4 linked regions of the Homo sapiens genome follow. The protein of the gene in region 1 interacts with the protein of each later gene in a biochemical or structural test. Each region holds a gene or a part of one and is shown in the gene's direction. Other genes may lie near its edges.

Region 1 (3,079 bases):
TGGGGTCCACTCTGACCTCAGACTCTTCATCTTTCTATCTTTCTCTCTCTGTTTACCCTGCTGCAATCCCCCTCACCCCAACGTCCGCCGGCCTGGCCCAGGACAAGCATGCGCTCCTGGATGTGACCCCCTCCGCCATCGAGCGCCTCAACTATGTGCAGTACTACCCCATTGTGGTCTTCTTCATCCCCGAGAGCCGGCCGGCCCTCAAGGCACTGCGCCAGTGGCTGGCGCCTGCCTCCCGCCGCAGCACCCGTCGCCTCTACGCACAAGCCCAGAAGCTGCGAAAACACAGCAGCCACCTCTTCACAGGTTGGGGGGTGGGTGTCCCAGGGTAGGCGGGTGGGCCCCAGCCTGAGTCTCCTGCACACACTGACGTCCCCTCCCTGCAGCCACCATCCCTCTGAATGGCACGAGTGACACCTGGTACCAGGAGCTCAAGGCCATCATTCGAGAGCAGCAGACGCGGCCCATCTGGACGGCGGAAGATCAGGTACTGCCGCGGTGTGGGTGGGTCGGGCAGGGAGGCCCCACAGACGCTGTGCAGGCCCAGCTGGGGTTTGGGGCCTCTGTCGGGAGTTAGGGCTTGGTCAGGGATCAGGACTGTGGCCAGAGTCAAGATGGGACCTGAGACAAGGGTGTTGGACTGGAACTTGGGTGAGATGAGATTGGAGGAGCTGTTTTTTGTTGTTTGATTTGAGATGGAGTCTCATGTCACCCAGGCTGGAGTACAGTGGTGTGATCTCAGCTTGCTGCAACCTCCGCCTCCCGGGTTCAAGTGATTCTCCTGCCTCAGCCTCCCGAGTAGCTGGGACTACAGGCGAGCGCTACCAGGCCCAGCTAATTTTTGTATTTTTAGCAGAGACGAGGTTTCACCATGTTGGCCAGGCTGGGCTCAAACTCCTGACCTCAGGCGATCCACCTGCCTCAGCTTCCCAAAGTGCTGGGATTACAGGCCTGAGCCACCGCGCCCAGCCTGGAGGAGCTGTTTTGAGAATGGAGTCAGTGGGGCACGGGAGCTCACGCCCATGGTCCCAGCTACTCAGGAGGCTGAGGCAGGAGAATCACTTGAACCCGGGAGGCAGAGGTTGCAGTGAGCAGAGATTGCGCCACAGCACTCCAGCCTGGCAACAGAGACTCCTTCTCATAAAAAAGAGAGAGAGAATGGAGTCTTCTCTTGGGGCTGGAGTCAAGGTTTGGGGCTCAGCTTGGATTTGGGGGCTGAGCCTCTCAGGTGAAGGGTCAATGGATACAACCCATCCTGGAGTCAACAGAGAAGCCTCCACTGAGGCTCCAGGCTCCAGGCTCCTCGCCTTGATTTGGGACCAGAGTTTGAAGGTGGGGGGATGTCGTGGGTGGCAGCTGGGGTCCTGGCCAGGGCCAGCCGCAGCATCCACACCCACCCCACAGCTGGATGGCTCCTTGGAGGACAACCTAGACCTCCCTCACCACGGCCTGGCCGACAGCTCCGCTGACCTCAGCTGCGACAGCCGCGTTAACAGCGACTACGAGACGGACGGCGAGGGCGGCGCGTACACGGATGGCGAGGGCTACACAGACGGCGAGGGGGGGCCCTACACGGATGTGGATGATGAGCCCCCGGCTCCAGCCCTGGCCCGGTCCTCGGAGCCCGTGCAGGCAGATGAGTCCCAGAGCCCGAGGGATCGTGGGAGAATCTCGGCTCATCAGGGGGCCCAGGTGCGTCGGACATGGGGGGCAGGCCTGGGAAGGGTCTCCGGAGGGGATGCCAGCACAGAGCAGACACACACTGGGAGCCTGTTTTCTACCAGGACGTCAACAAACACGGCTTCCCTGGTCAGACTGGTTTCTGGGACTCAGACCTGGGGTAGCTGAGACCCACGTGGCACTGAGTAACTTGCAGCATTTTTTTTTTTTTTTTTTTTTTGAGACGCAGTCTTGCTCTGTCGCCTAGGCTGGAGTGCAATGGCGCAATCTTGGCTCACTGCAACCTCCACCTCCCAGGTTCAAGCGATTCTCCTGCCTCAGCCTCCTGAGTAGTTGGGATTACAGGCACCTGCCACCATGCCCGGCTAATTTTTGTATTTTTAGTAGAGACGGGGTTTCACCATTGGTCAGGCTGGTCTTGAACTCCTGACCTTGTAATCCACCCGCCTTGGCCTCCCAAAGTGCTGGGATTACAGGCATGAGCCACTGCACCCAGGCTTTTTTTTTTTTTTTTTTGAGATGGAGTTTCGCTTTTGTTGCCCAGGCTGGAGTGCGATGGCGTGATCTCGGCTCACCACAACCTCCGCCTCCCAGGTTCAAACGATTCTCCTGTCTCAGCCTCCTGAGTAGCTAGGATTACAGGCGTGCACCACCATGCCTGGCTGATTTTGTATTTTTAGTACAGACAGGGTTTCTCCATGTTGGTCAGGCTGGTCTGGAACTCCAGCCTCGGCCTCCCAAAGTGCTGGGATTACAGGTGTGAGCCACTGCACCCGGCCTTTTTTTTTTTTTTTTTTTTTTTTTTTTGAGTTAGAGTCTCGCTCTGTCACCCAGGCTGGAGTGCAGTGGCACGATCTGGGCTCACTGCAACCTCGGCCTCCTGTGTTCAAGCGTTTCTCCTCCCTCAGACTCCCAGGTAGCTGGGATTACAGGTGAGCACCACCATGCCCAGCTAATTTTTTTTTTTTTTTAAGGTATTCTTAGTAGAGACAGGGTTTCACCACGCTGGCCAGGCTGGTCTCCGATTCCTGACCTCAGGTGATCCACGTCGGCCTCTCAGAGTGTTGGGATTAGAGGCGTGAGCCACCGCACCTGGCCTCCAGCCAACATTTTAACCTCTCTGTGCACCTGTTTCCTCATCTAGGACACAGGGTGGATGGTATCAGACTTGGTGGCACAGGGCGGTGGTGAGCACTCAATGTGCTCAGCCCAAGTTTTGGCACATAGTAGTTGCGTGTCTTTTTGAACTTGACCTATCTAATTTATATATTTTATTTTTTAAATTTTAGAGATAGGGTCTTGCCCTGCTGCCCAGGCTGGAGTGCAGTAGTACAATCATAGTTCGTTGCGGCCTCCAACTCCTGAGCTAAAGGGAGCCTCTCATCTCAGCCTC
Region 2 (4,114 bases), on another chromosome or scaffold:
CAAGGTGGGTGAATTACCTGAGGTTAGGAGTTCCAGACCAGCCTGGCCAAGATGGTGAAACCCTGTCTCTACTAAAAATACAAAAATTAGCTGGGGCAGAGGTTGCAGTGAGCTGTTATTGCACCAACGCACTCCAGCCTGGCAACAGAGTGAGACTCCATCTCAAAAAAAAATAAAAAAAATAGACTGGGCACGGTGGCTCACGTCTGTAATCCCAGCAGAGCGAGATTCCGTCTCAAAAAATAATAATAAATACAAATAATAAATACAAATAAATAAAATTAAAAAATAAAAATCTGTAGTGCCATCTGCCTCCAAAGGCTTACTTAGCCTTGCTGGTTAATAAAATTATTATTCAAGAGAAACTATCAAAGACACTGAATTTGCCCCTAAGACAAAGAAGCTGTTTCTGCAAAGGGACACCTTATGTAGATGAAAAAATTTAATAGTTTGGAACTTTTGTATTCTGATCTCAGTCTCTCTAAGTTTAAGAACTTGTTCCTTAAATTTTTTTTTTTTTTTTTTTTTTGAGACAGAGTCTTGCTCTGTCGCCCAGGCTGGAGTTCAGTGGCACCGTCTCGGCTCACTGCAAGCTCCGCCTCCTGGGTTCACGCCATTCTCCTGCCTCAGCCTCCTGAGTAGCTGGGACTACAGGTGCCCGCCACCATGCCCAGCTAATTTTTTGTATTTTTAGTAGAGACGGGGTTTCACTGTGTTACCCAGGATGGTCTTGATCTCCTGACCTCGTGATCCGCCTGTCTCGGCCTCCCAAAGTGCTGTGATTGCAGGCGTGAGCCACCGCACCCAGCCGTTCCTTAAATTTTTTATTGCCATACAATTTCAGTAATGTTTTCCCATTTCCACCTAGTGACAGACTACATTCTAGTTTTAGCCTTTGCAGCAAATTGAGATCCAGTTTTCTGGGGAAAGATTGCTACATTTTTATAGCTTTCTTTTCCTGTAGAGATGTGACAGTAAATAAAGTGGTTCGTATTTCCAATGATTAATCTTTTTAAAAAATAAACTCTATTTTTTAGAATAGTTTGTTTTTTAAGAAAGAAAAAAAAGAAAGAATAGTTTGTTTGTTTTTGGTTTGTTTGAAACAGGGTCTCACTCTGTCACCCAGGCTGGAGTGCAATGGCGCAGTCACAGCTTGCTCCTGCAGCCTTGATCGTGCAGGCTCCATCTGTCTTCTCACCTCAGCCTCCCTGGTAGCTGGGACTAGAAGCACACGCCACCATGCCCAACTAATTTTTGTATTTCTTTTGTAGAGATGGGATCTCACCATGTTGTCCAGGCTGGTCTCGAACAACTGGGCCCAAGAGATCCACCTGCCTCAGCCTCCAAAAGTGTTGGAATTTCAGGCATGAGCCATCACGCCTGCCCTAGAATAGTTTTAGATTTATTTTAAAAATTGTAGGCTGGGCGCGGTGGCTCACGCCTGTAATCCCAGCACTTTGGGAGGCCAAGGCGGGTGGATCACCTGAGGTCAGGAGTTCAAGACGAGCCTAGGCAACATGGTGAAACTCTGTCTCTACTAAAAATACAAAAATTAGCTCGGCGCGGTGGCATGTGCCTGTAATCCCAGCTACTTAAGAGGCTGAGGCAGGAGAATCGCTTGAGCCCAGAAGGTGGAGGTTGCAGTGAGCCGAGATTGCATCATTACACTCCAGCCTGGGCGACAGAGCGAGACTCTGTCTCAAAAAAAAAAAAAAATTGTAAAGCTAGTACAGGGAGTTCCTGTTCTGCAACTGGCCAGCAGAACATCTTAAGTGGAATCATATGCAGTTATTTGCGTCTTATTTTTTTCACTTAGTATGGTGGTTTCATTTTATTATTACTATTATTATTAATGAGGCAGAGTCTCGCTCTGTTCCCCAGGCTGGAGTGCAGTGGCGCATTCTCAGATCACTGCAATCTCTACCTCCCTGCAATCTCTGCCCTGCTAGGTTCAAGCGATTCTCCTGCCTCAGCCTCCAAGCAGCTGAGACTACAAGTGCACACCACCATGCCCAGCTAATTTTTGTATTTTTGTAGAGATGAGGTTTCACCATGTTGGCCAGGCTGGTCTCGAACTCCTGATCTCAAGTGATCTGCCTGCCTCAGCCTCCCAAAGTGCTGGGATTACAGGCGTGAGCCACTGCACTCAACCAGCATAGTCTTTTAATGGTCTTGAGATGTGGTGTGAATGTATAGAAACTATTCATGGCTTTTTGTTGCTGAATAGTATTCCATTGTGTGTGTATATATCTATACACACTACATTTTGTATCCATTAGCCAATCCATTGATATGTGTGTTGTTTTCACTTTTGGCTATTATAAATAAATATGAACATTTGGGTACAGATCTTTGTGGAGACATAGGTTTTCAATTCTCTTGGATAAATAATTAGAAATTGTATGCCAGGTTCTGTGGTAAGTATATATTCAGCTTTATTTTTGAAAAACTGGCAAACTGCCTTCCACAGTGGCTATATCACTTTGCATTCCTACCAGCAGTGTATGAGGATTCCAGTTGCTTCACGTCCTCACCAACAAGTTGTATTATCAGTCTTTTTTCATTTTAGCCATGGTAGTGGTGTTTAATAGTATCTCATTGTATTTTTCATCTGCATTTCCCTAATGACTAATGATATGGAGCAACCTTTTGTGTGCTCATTTGCCATTCCTGTATCTTTTCTGGTGACATAGCTGTTCAAATTTCTGCTCTTTTTTTTTTTGAGACGGAGTCTCGCTGTCTCCCAGGTTGGAGTGCAGTGGCACGATTTTGGCCCACTGCAACCTCTGCCTCCTGGGTTTAAGCAATTCTCCTGCCTCAGCTTCCTGAGTAGCTGAGATTGCAGGCAGACGCCACCACGCCTGGCTAATTTTGTATTTTTAGTAGAGATGGGGTTTCACAATGTTGGTCAGGCTGGTCTCGAACTCCTGACCTTGTGATCCACCCGCCTTGACCTCCCAAAGTGCTGGGATTACAGGCATGAGCCACCACATCCAGCCTTCTGCTCACTTTTTATTGGTGATTTGTCTTATTATTGAGCTATAGGACTTGCTTATATAAATATTTTTTAATTTCTTGATCAAAACAGCATATGTTTTGGAGTTTATCTTCAATGTGTAGATGAACATAATGAAAGGCTGTTAAGTACTAGCTAAGTACCTAACTGGAATATAAGTGCTGTTTTGCATGTGTAAGTAACTAAATAATAGATCTGGTAGAAATATAAAGTATTTTTTTGTGTGCCACTCCCTTTGCCCAACACCAATGAATCCATCTCTCCAAATCTGCCTGTTCTAGTGAATGCTAAGTTTTTTATTTGTTCCCTTTTTTTTTTTTAACTTTGATATGATAATTGTTGGTTAGGGTCCAGCTGTGGTGAAAACTCATCTTATGGCTGAGTTTCAGGTGTGTGCCAACATGGCCTGCTAAATTTTGTATTTTTAGTAGAGTCAGGGTTTCACCATGTTGGCCAGGCTGGTCTCGAGCTCCTGGCCTCAAGTGATCCACCCGCCTCAGCCTCCCAAAGTGTTGGGATGACAGGCATGAGCCACCACAGCCAGCCAGACACGACAGCATCTGTAGATTATGTTCTATTCCATTACTTAATACTTCTTTTTTCTTTTCTTTCCCTCCCTGCCTTTCTGTTTCCTTCCCTCCCTCCCGCCCTCCTTCCTTTCTTCCTTTCTTTTCTTTTCTTTCCTCTTCTTTTTTTGAGACCGAGTCTCACTCTGTCACCCAGGCTGGAGTGCAGTGGCGCGATCTCAGCTCACTGCAACCTCTGCCTCCCAGGTTCAAGCGATTCTCCTGCCTCAGCCTCCGAAGTAGCTGGGATTACAGGCACCCACCACCACACCCGGCTAATTTTTGTGTTTTTAGTAGAGATGTGTTTCACTATGTTGGCCAGGCTGGTTTCGAACTCCTGACCTCAGGTGATCCGCCCACCTTGGCCTCCCAAAGTACTGGGATTACAGGTGTGAGCCACTGCGCCCAGCCCTTCCTTCCTTCTTTCTTTCTTTCTTTACTTTTTTTTTTTTTTTTGACAAGGCCTCACTCTGTCACCCAGGCTGGAGTACAGAGGCACAATCATGGCTCACTGCAGCCTCTACCTCCCCAT
Region 3 (4,114 bases), on another chromosome or scaffold:
ATATTCAATAGTGATTTCATGAAGAAATGAATGGAGGAAGGGAGGATGGCAGGTACAGAGCAGGGGATAAAGGGAAGAATCAGTATTTTAGTTTAATTTTTGTGAGCTACACATTATTAACAGTTCTTTTATGGTTTTGTTTTTGTTAAGGATTTCTATATTCAAGATATTAATGCAGGCTTAAGAGATGAAACAGAAATACCTGAACAATTAGTAAGTACATTGACTTAATATTTAATTTTAAAAGATATTTATAAGCTCTCTTCATGATGTGAATAAGGCATGTTCTAATTTTTGTCTCAAGTCTGTTTTTAATTTAGAATGCATTTTCCTGTAGACTTAATATTGTTAGTGATGGTTAGTTCCTAGACCCAGACCAGCTCATGCCCCATAACAAAAGAAGCTACAATATGGCCCTGAATCCCCTTTGATTCTTGAACCCTTCTGAGCCTAGACTTGTTCTTGACCTTGAGGAAGTTAGGAAAATTAAAGTAGCACAGCAAAGACGGAGTAGAAATTTAGCAGTTGGACAATTCTGATGGCAGCTTAGGGAAAAGGCTTGATAGAGAGAAGAGCCTAAGCTGTCATGGGATTTGCCCAGTTGGTAAACCTCTACTCAGTCTCTGTTATGCTACTTTAAAGCAATTTTTGGCTACATTATTTAGTTTTATTTTTGTATATAGGTTCCAATTTCTTCTCTATCTGAAGAGCAGTTGGAAAAGTTAATTAAGAAATTGAGAAAAGCAAGTGAAGGTAAGACTGCCTAAAGTTGCAAGTTCAATTATTTTAGAGTAATTAGGTGGTATATGAGTTGATACCATTCTGGTTTAAAATATGTTACTACTATTGTTCAGAATCCTACAATTACATGTTTGGCTGCTTAAGCTGTTGTGCTTATATTTGGCACAGGCTTGAATTCTACACTTAAAGATCATATTATGTCCCATCCAGCATTACACGATGCACTTAATGACCCTAAAAATGGCGATTCTGCAACCAAGCACCTGAAACAGCAGGTATGTTTAGGCTATAGTAACTACTAAACATGGCCTTTGTTCATTTGTTAAAACTGTTTTAAATGTAATTATTAATAAGATTTTATTTTGTTTACCTTTGAGGGTACCAAATATTTCCATTTCAAAAATATATAGAAACATATACAAAAAATTGAGGGCATGGATGTGATTCTGAGTACCGTATATTAAATATTTAAAGGCAAGAGAGAAAAATTTTAAGTCAAATACAAATTATCAATGTAAGCATACTGCCTTATGCAGAAATTACCTTGCTGTTTTCCCATTTGAACCAAATGTGTTTACTCTAGTTTATAAAATAATCTTGTGAAGTTTGCAGGCTTCTATTTTAGGTAACATTGAAAATTTAAAGTTACTTGGTCCAAGAAGATGCTTTGTTGAGTTTGGAGCGGGAAAGGGAAAATTATCTCATTGGGTTGATATTGCCTTAAAAGATGCTGAAAAAGTTCACTTCATCCTAGTGGAAAAGGTGACCACAAGATTCAAGGTAAGTGAAACCATTGCTCTGTGTTAGTAACCAAACTTGTTTTCATTTTTTGTATTCAGGAAAAAAGTGATAGAAACATTTCTTAAAAGAAAGGAAAGGAATTTTCTTTATCTGTTTGTTGTAGCTTTTTATTAGTTCTAATTGTATTGATAACTCAAACTGAAGGTGAATTTTTTAATCTAAGTTTTGATAGTCCATTGATCTGAATTCTTAAAATTATTTGCAGAGACAGGAAAATATATAGAAAGAGCCAAGCTCAAGCTAGGAGTTAAAAGTCTTGGGCTCTACTCCTATCTTTGCCACTTGCCCTTCATTCATTAAACAATTTTTGAGCATACTGCCAGGCCCCACCCAGGCTGAAGTACAGTGGCAGGATCGTGGCTCACTGCAGCCTTGACCTCCTGGGCTCATATAATCCTCCCATTTCAGCCTCATGAGTAGCTGGGACTATAGTCCCACGCCACCATGCCCAGGTAATTTTTTAAAATTTTTTGTGGAGACAGGGTCTCACTTTGTCGCCCAGGCTGGTGTCGAACTCCTGAGCTTAAGCCATCCTCCCACCTTACCCTTCCAAAGTGCTGGAATTACAAGTGTGAGCCACTGTGCCCAGCCACTTTATTACTTATATTTAGAAAAGAGACCCAGGCAAATACATAAATGATTGTAGTGAAGTGTTAAAATACGAGAAAGGTCTGCACAGAGTACAGCATGGTTTCAAAGAAGGGAGTGACAAGTTCTATTGCAGGGAAGAGATGGAGAATGACTATGTAGAAAAGGTGATGCTTGAACTAAATCTTGAAAGGTGAATTGGTGTTTGTTAGAGAGTTTGAGAAGCATTCTAGGAAGCAAGAACAGTGTAACCAAATACCTGAAATAACAGGAAAATATGGAAACATTCCTGTATAATGGGAGTACATGGTGCAAAGTAGAGTTCAGCAATGATGGGACTGGAGAGGATGGCTAGCCTATAGAAGGTCTCATATTTTATGCTAAGGAAGGAGTTTGACTATGCTGCTGTCTGGTGGGGATACAATAGAAAAAAGATTTAGTTCTTGGCTTTGAGGAAGCTTACGTCTAGTGGAGTAGACATATAAATATTTGTGTTCAGTATGCTAAGTGTGTTTTGATAGTGGTAAGTACCCAATCCTATGGGAGCATGAAGATAGAGCACCAACCTCAGTCTAGTGTGGGTCATAGAAGTTTTTGCAGAAGTGACAGTTGAGATGAGATTGAAATAATATGTAAGAGTTGGTAAAGTAGAAGGAAATTTTTCAAAGTTTATCCTAGCAGCACCATTAAAACTATATTAGAAGAGTCTGATACTTAGAGAGATTAATAATAAAGATAATTTTTGTCCAACAATCCAAGTAAGAAAGAGGCCAGAGCTAAAGCTATTGCATTGGGATGGAGAGGAGGGCAAGAGTATGAGAAATATTAAGATGTTGGAAGCCACAAGAGTTGGTGATTTGTTAGTAATTGAATATGAGAGATAAGGAGTAATTCTCGGTAGGATTTTTATGGCTTAGGTGACTAAGTGGTGTTCTTTCCTGAGATAAGGAATGAAGGAGGCACAAGAGGAAGGATGGTTTTGGAGACAGAAATAATGAGTTCAGTTCTGAATGTGTCCAGTTTGCTGGTGAAGTAGAGCTTTCTAGTTCACAATTGAGTATGTGTCTGATGCCCATTGGAGAGGCCTGAGCCACAAATGTAGATCAGCCGGTCGTGGGCACATAGGTATAGATTAGAATGGTTGTGATCTTTCAGGAGAGCAAGAAGAGGAGCGAACCAAAAATAGTACACCAGGAGTGACAAAGATAAAGGAGCTAGTAGACAATCTTAGATAAATCACTTAAGATCTGTGAACTTCAGTTCCTTTGTCAGTGAATTGGGAATTTTTAGGGTTAAAGGAAATAATGTCTATGTAATAATTGATAAACATTTTCAAATCTTTTTTAAAAAGTGTGATATTTTGAAGTTCTCATCAAAGAATGTACAATCTTAATTTTTAAATATGTTCTGTTGCTCTGAATTTTGAAAACCAATAAAAATCTTTTTATTTTCATAAAGCTTTTTTAAATGTAAGAAGTGATTATTACAATAATGTTCTGTTTGTGCAGGTGGATGGAAAACACAGAAAGAAAAATTCAGTGTTTGAAAGACTTCAAATTGATATTCAACACTTGTGTTTGAGTAAGTTGTGTAACTTTCCATTGGTCTACAAATAAATCATAACTGTTTTAAACTCTGAGGTTGCTTAGAAATCCAATCATGCAGAACTGTGCTTCAGGGAAAACAGTCAAATCAATTCATTGTTAATATAGAATGTTTTATATAATGTTTTTAAATAGATGTAAATTGAATTAAGGTTGAGAATTTTAAAAATTTTCAGTATCAAGTGGAAATGAAGTGTTATATTAGGGAAGAGTTTAAAAGTTTTATAATATGTACTTCTGTTGTTTCTTTGTCCTGTTTAAATTAATTTTGAGTCTGTTCAAACTATAAACTAGCCTTCTGCCTGCAGTTAACGTGACTTTACCTAAACCATGAAAGAAAATGAGATATTTCTCTGCCTAGCTAATGTGTAAAAGATACT
Region 4 (4,114 bases), on another chromosome or scaffold:
AACCACTGTCAAAAGCAAAGCTGAGACCCCCAGGAGAACCCCTCGTGTTTCCAAGAAGCCAGCATGGATCCTTAGTCTAACTCCCAGGGAGCAGCAGCTTAGAAGGACAGACTTGTTGGGCCAAATGGGGCCTGGAAATTCCCACCAGCTCTCCCCTTTTCAGCTCTCCCGAAGGCACCCAGTGGAAACCCCAGATGTTGTGTGCATCCTGCAGGCGTCCTCTCTTTGGGCCTCTTAACACGCAATCCAATTGCCCTGATGTCCAGCGGCTTCAGGTCTCATTCAGGGCAAGCCTGGCTGTTTGCAGGCCTGAGTTTCAGCCATTCACTCCTCATCAGAGCTGGCTCTGGTCAGCTTATGGCCCCAGGAGGCCCTATGGGCTCTGGGCTCTGCAGACCTAGGAGGCCTTCTTGCTTCATGCTGTAACAGTGGACAAAGGCGGAGGAGCTAAACAGCAGGGGAGGTGCACAAAAGCCCTTTACGGTTGGGCATTTTACAAAGTGCTGGGTCCTCTTCACCTCTATACTTTTCACCAAGGGCTGGCATAGTGGCCATTGTCACTGACTCCCAGTGGTTGATACTCACCTTGGGCAGGCCAAGCTGTGGATAGAGGCAGTTCATCTAAACAAAGACAGGACCCCTCCGAGATGAGTTTGTCATCTGGATGGCCCTAGGAGCCAAGTGCTGCCCCCCACCTGGAGTAATGCTTACCTGGGGATCCCCAGCAGCCCCTACCCTCACCTCTACCCCAGATGCTACCTGGTTCCCCCTGCCCACGTTTCTCCCTCCCATATCTCCCTGGCCTCTTCACTCCCTTCTCTGGGTGACCTCATCCCTTTCTGGCTTCAGACACCAAGTATATACTGATGCTTCCCCAGTCTATGTGCCTGGAACTCTCAGTCTCTGAGCCTGGGACTGCACAACCCCCCTAGCACCATGCTCAGGGCTACAGTGAGGATGGCACCCCATGCAGCTACACGAGGTGGCCCTGTGGGTCCTCATTCGGAGTTGTCTCCCAGCCACCTCCCTGTCATCCCCCAGTGTATCCCACTGGCACTCAAATCAGCCACGCATACCTGTGAGCATTCATCTTCCTCCTACATGTGTACCCTAAAGCATGCTACAGCCCCCCACCATGCACTAAGCTCCTTAGGCCTAGCCCAGGATGGATAAAGGTTTTGGGAGGCATTTTCTATACCTACTAGAGCCAGCTGTCCCCAGTGGGTGAGGGCAAGGTGGAAAGGGATAGTAGTGACTCTTCTGTCCCCAGTCCGGAGCTATCCCCTGTGAGCCCTGTGGCATCGAGGCCTCTGAGGAAGAAAGTCTGGGAGCCGCACACTGACTGTGTGTTGTGTGTTTTCCCTCAACAGGACTGCACCTTCTTCAATAAGAAGGACATCCTCAAGTAAGTGTGGCTTCTCGTTCACCCTGTTGGGACTGGGACTGGGGCCGGGGTGAGGCTGGGGCACCCCACATGGGCTGGCTGTGCTCCTGGGGCTGAGGCAGAGCATCAGCATGTATCAGGAGCCACATTCAGGTCCCCACTCGGCCACTGGGCTAGGATGGAGTTAGAGCTTCCCACTCCTCCCAGGGCCCAGATCCTCCTGCTGGGGAATGAACATCTACTTACTATGAGCTTTCAGGTGGGTAGTTTCCGGCACATTCTTATTTAATCCTCATTGTGACCTTGTAACAAGAGAATCCATTTATCCCCATTTGACAGATGGAGCTTAGCAACTTGGCTAAAGTCACAGAGCCAGGGACTCAAGACCCAGCCTCTGACTCCAGGTCCCTTGCTATTTCACTGCATCCTGGGTCCTGGTATAGCAGGGAGTCCCTGTCTGTTAGACCAGGGGTCCCTAAGGGCCCTTTGGCTCTAGCTTTGATGTTCTTCCACTCCTAGGACGTCTAAAAGTTGAGGGCATGGCCACCACCCCTGAGCTATTCATCAGGGCTCTGCTTCTTCCCAGGACAGCCCTTCTCCTTGGTGTTGATGGGGGTGGGGGTGGACCTGGATGGGAAAGATAAAGGGGATCGGCAGCCTCAGAACCCCAGGACCAGTGGGTGAGCAGGAATCACTGAATACCAAGAAAACTGCCCCACGGGCCTCACTAGGCCCCTCTGCCTGGGTGGCACTAAAAGCCAGCAAAGTCCCAGGATCACTTGCCCTGGAGATCGATGGTCAGGCTGGGACCAGAGCCCATTGCAGCTTCCCAAGAGAGCTGTGCTGCAGCTTGTCACTGCCCTAACCATTCTGCTCATTCAGGCAGTGCCTCTCGGCTTTCCTCTCTACCCAGGCTGCTATTCCAACCTGTCACCTGCATGGGCAGGGGATACCCCACTTCCACCACCTTAGAGAGTCTGAGCAAGGGGCAAAGCCTCCAGGCCTGGCATCAGTAGACCTGGCATCTGTGGCCTTGGGCAACCATTTGACCTTCCCTGAGCCTCAGTTTTCTTCTGTATAATAGGGATAGTGAAACCTACCCTCATAGCATTGCCGAGAGGCAGCAACACTGGGGTATAGTGTTTGATAAGTGGGATTTGCCCTGTAGCTTGAGAGATGTCAGGGGTGAGGTCCCCATTTCGACAGGATGGCTCTCGGTATTGGAATAACAAAGCTGTCACCCCTGGCATTCTTGTGGCACCTTTTACCTTTCAGAGTTCTTGGCATGGAGCCTCATTTGAGCCTCACAGGGAGCTTCGGGTTCCCTACCTTTGTAGATGCCAAGCCCAAGCTGCCTGTCTTCTGAGGCCCACGGCCATTTTCATTCTGGCAACAAAAGCCCCTTGCCTCGGCCTTTGCACTGGCTATCTCCACTCCCTGGAGTGTCCTTCGCCTCTCCTCTGCCCACAGCATTGCTATGCATCCTTCCAGACCCAACTCCAGAATCATCTCCTTTATAAGCACCCCCAACACCCTGCCACCCTAGTGCTATCCCAGCTGCTCTAACAGCCTGTTAGGGGCTCCTTGGGTTCCTGGACCCAGGGGCCCAGCTCCCCACCAGACTTGTGATCAGGCAGGACTAACAGGGAGCATGGCACCTGTTAGCCACCAGTGACCATATGAAGAGTGTGTGGGTGAAAGACAGGTAGGATTGGCTGAGGGAGAACATTCCAGGCTGGGGAGCAGCAGAGGTGAGACACAGGCCAGCTTCTCCTGCTCCCACTCCCACCCCCATCCTCCCGTGGTCTCATTGACAGCAGCAAGATTGCCTGTGTGGGGAAGAGGAGAGAGGAGCTTGAAGGCCAGTCCGGGAATCCGATCCAATATGATGGGCCTTTGGTGGTTGTTTTAGTCCATTCTCATGCTGCTATAAAGAACTGCCTGAGACTGGGTAATTTATAAAGGAAAGAGGTTTAATTGATTCATGGCTCCACATGGCTGGGGAGGCCTCAGGAAACTTACAATCATGGCAGAAGGGGAGGCAAACACATCCTTCCTCACATGGCGGCAGGAAAGAGAAGTGCTGGGCAAAGGGGGAGAAGCCCCTTATAAAACCATCAGATCTCGTGAGAACTCACTATCATGAGAACAGCCTCGGGGTAACTGCCCCCATGATTCAATTACCTCCCACCAGGTCCCTCCCATGACACGTAGGGATTATGGGAACTACAATTCAAGATGAGATTTGGGTAGGGACACAGCCAAACCATATCAGGGGTATCCCTGGCCCCTTGGAAAATGAGGGGCTCCAGGCAGGTGAGAGGGCTTGAGGAGAGGCGTCCTGGCTCCCCACAGCCCTGGCCTGCACCCCTCTGCACGCATCAGGACCCTAGGCTCTGTAATTCAACACCAGAGCAAAACCCAAGCCTGAGGCCCCGTCTGCAGCATGGGGATGACATTGCTTGCAGGAGCTGTTTTCTCACAGGCCCCTGTGTCTGGGAGGGCTGGGTGATGGTGTTATTAAACATGAAAAGAGCTACCTGGAGTTTGCTGCCCACCTGTCCACCCTCAGGGAAGGGTAGTTAAGACAAGACAGATTCGGGATTGCCTGTCCCTAGAGGGAACAGGCATGGCCATGATGGCTCAATTCCAGTTTCACCCCCCTTCGCTTTTCTCCAGCCTTCTCTGTGGAGAGGCCAGCATGACTGACTGCCCCTCCAGGAGAGCCCT

The links. The genes of interacting proteins can lie anywhere in the genome.
Region 2: the proteins of TJP3 (region 1) and EZH1 interact in a test that uses a peptide from one of them, tested with the Homo sapiens proteins (one large-scale study listed by IntAct).
Region 3: the proteins of TJP3 (region 1) and TRMT13 interact in a test that uses a peptide from one of them, tested with the Homo sapiens proteins (one large-scale study listed by IntAct).
Region 4: the proteins of TJP3 (region 1) and CIB2 interact in a test that uses a peptide from one of them, tested with the Homo sapiens proteins (one large-scale study listed by IntAct).

What each region holds. Positions count from the first base shown.
Region 1 is NC_000019.10:3,746,384-3,749,462, forward strand, and holds part of TJP3 (tight junction protein ZO-3), read left to right. Parts: intron 1-101; coding exon 102-312; intron 313-392; coding exon 393-493; intron 494-1,410; coding exon 1,411-1,698; intron 1,699-3,079. UniProt on the Homo sapiens protein: TJP1, TJP2, and TJP3 are closely related scaffolding proteins that link tight junction (TJ) transmembrane proteins such as claudins, junctional adhesion molecules, and occludin to the actin cytoskeleton.
Region 2 is NC_000017.11:42,734,591-42,738,704, reverse strand, and holds part of EZH1 (histone-lysine N-methyltransferase EZH1), read left to right. Parts: intron 1-4,114.
Region 3 is NC_000001.11:100,139,499-100,143,612, forward strand, and holds part of TRMT13 (tRNA:m(4)X modification enzyme TRM13 homolog), read left to right. Parts: intron 1-150; coding exon 151-213; intron 214-683; coding exon 684-753; intron 754-909; coding exon 910-1,016; intron 1,017-1,353; coding exon 1,354-1,521; intron 1,522-3,638; coding exon 3,639-3,711; exon of another isoform or gene 3,712-3,716; intron 3,717-4,114. UniProt on the Homo sapiens protein: tRNA methylase which 2'-O-methylates cytidine(4) in tRNA(Pro) and tRNA(Gly)(GCC), and adenosine(4) in tRNA(His).
Region 4 is NC_000015.10:78,120,996-78,125,109, reverse strand, and holds part of CIB2 (calcium and integrin-binding family member 2), read left to right. Parts: intron 1-1,370; coding exon 1,371-1,405; intron 1,406-4,114. UniProt on the Homo sapiens protein: Calcium- and integrin-binding protein that plays a role in intracellular calcium homeostasis. Acts as an auxiliary subunit of the sensory mechanoelectrical transduction (MET) channel in hair cells.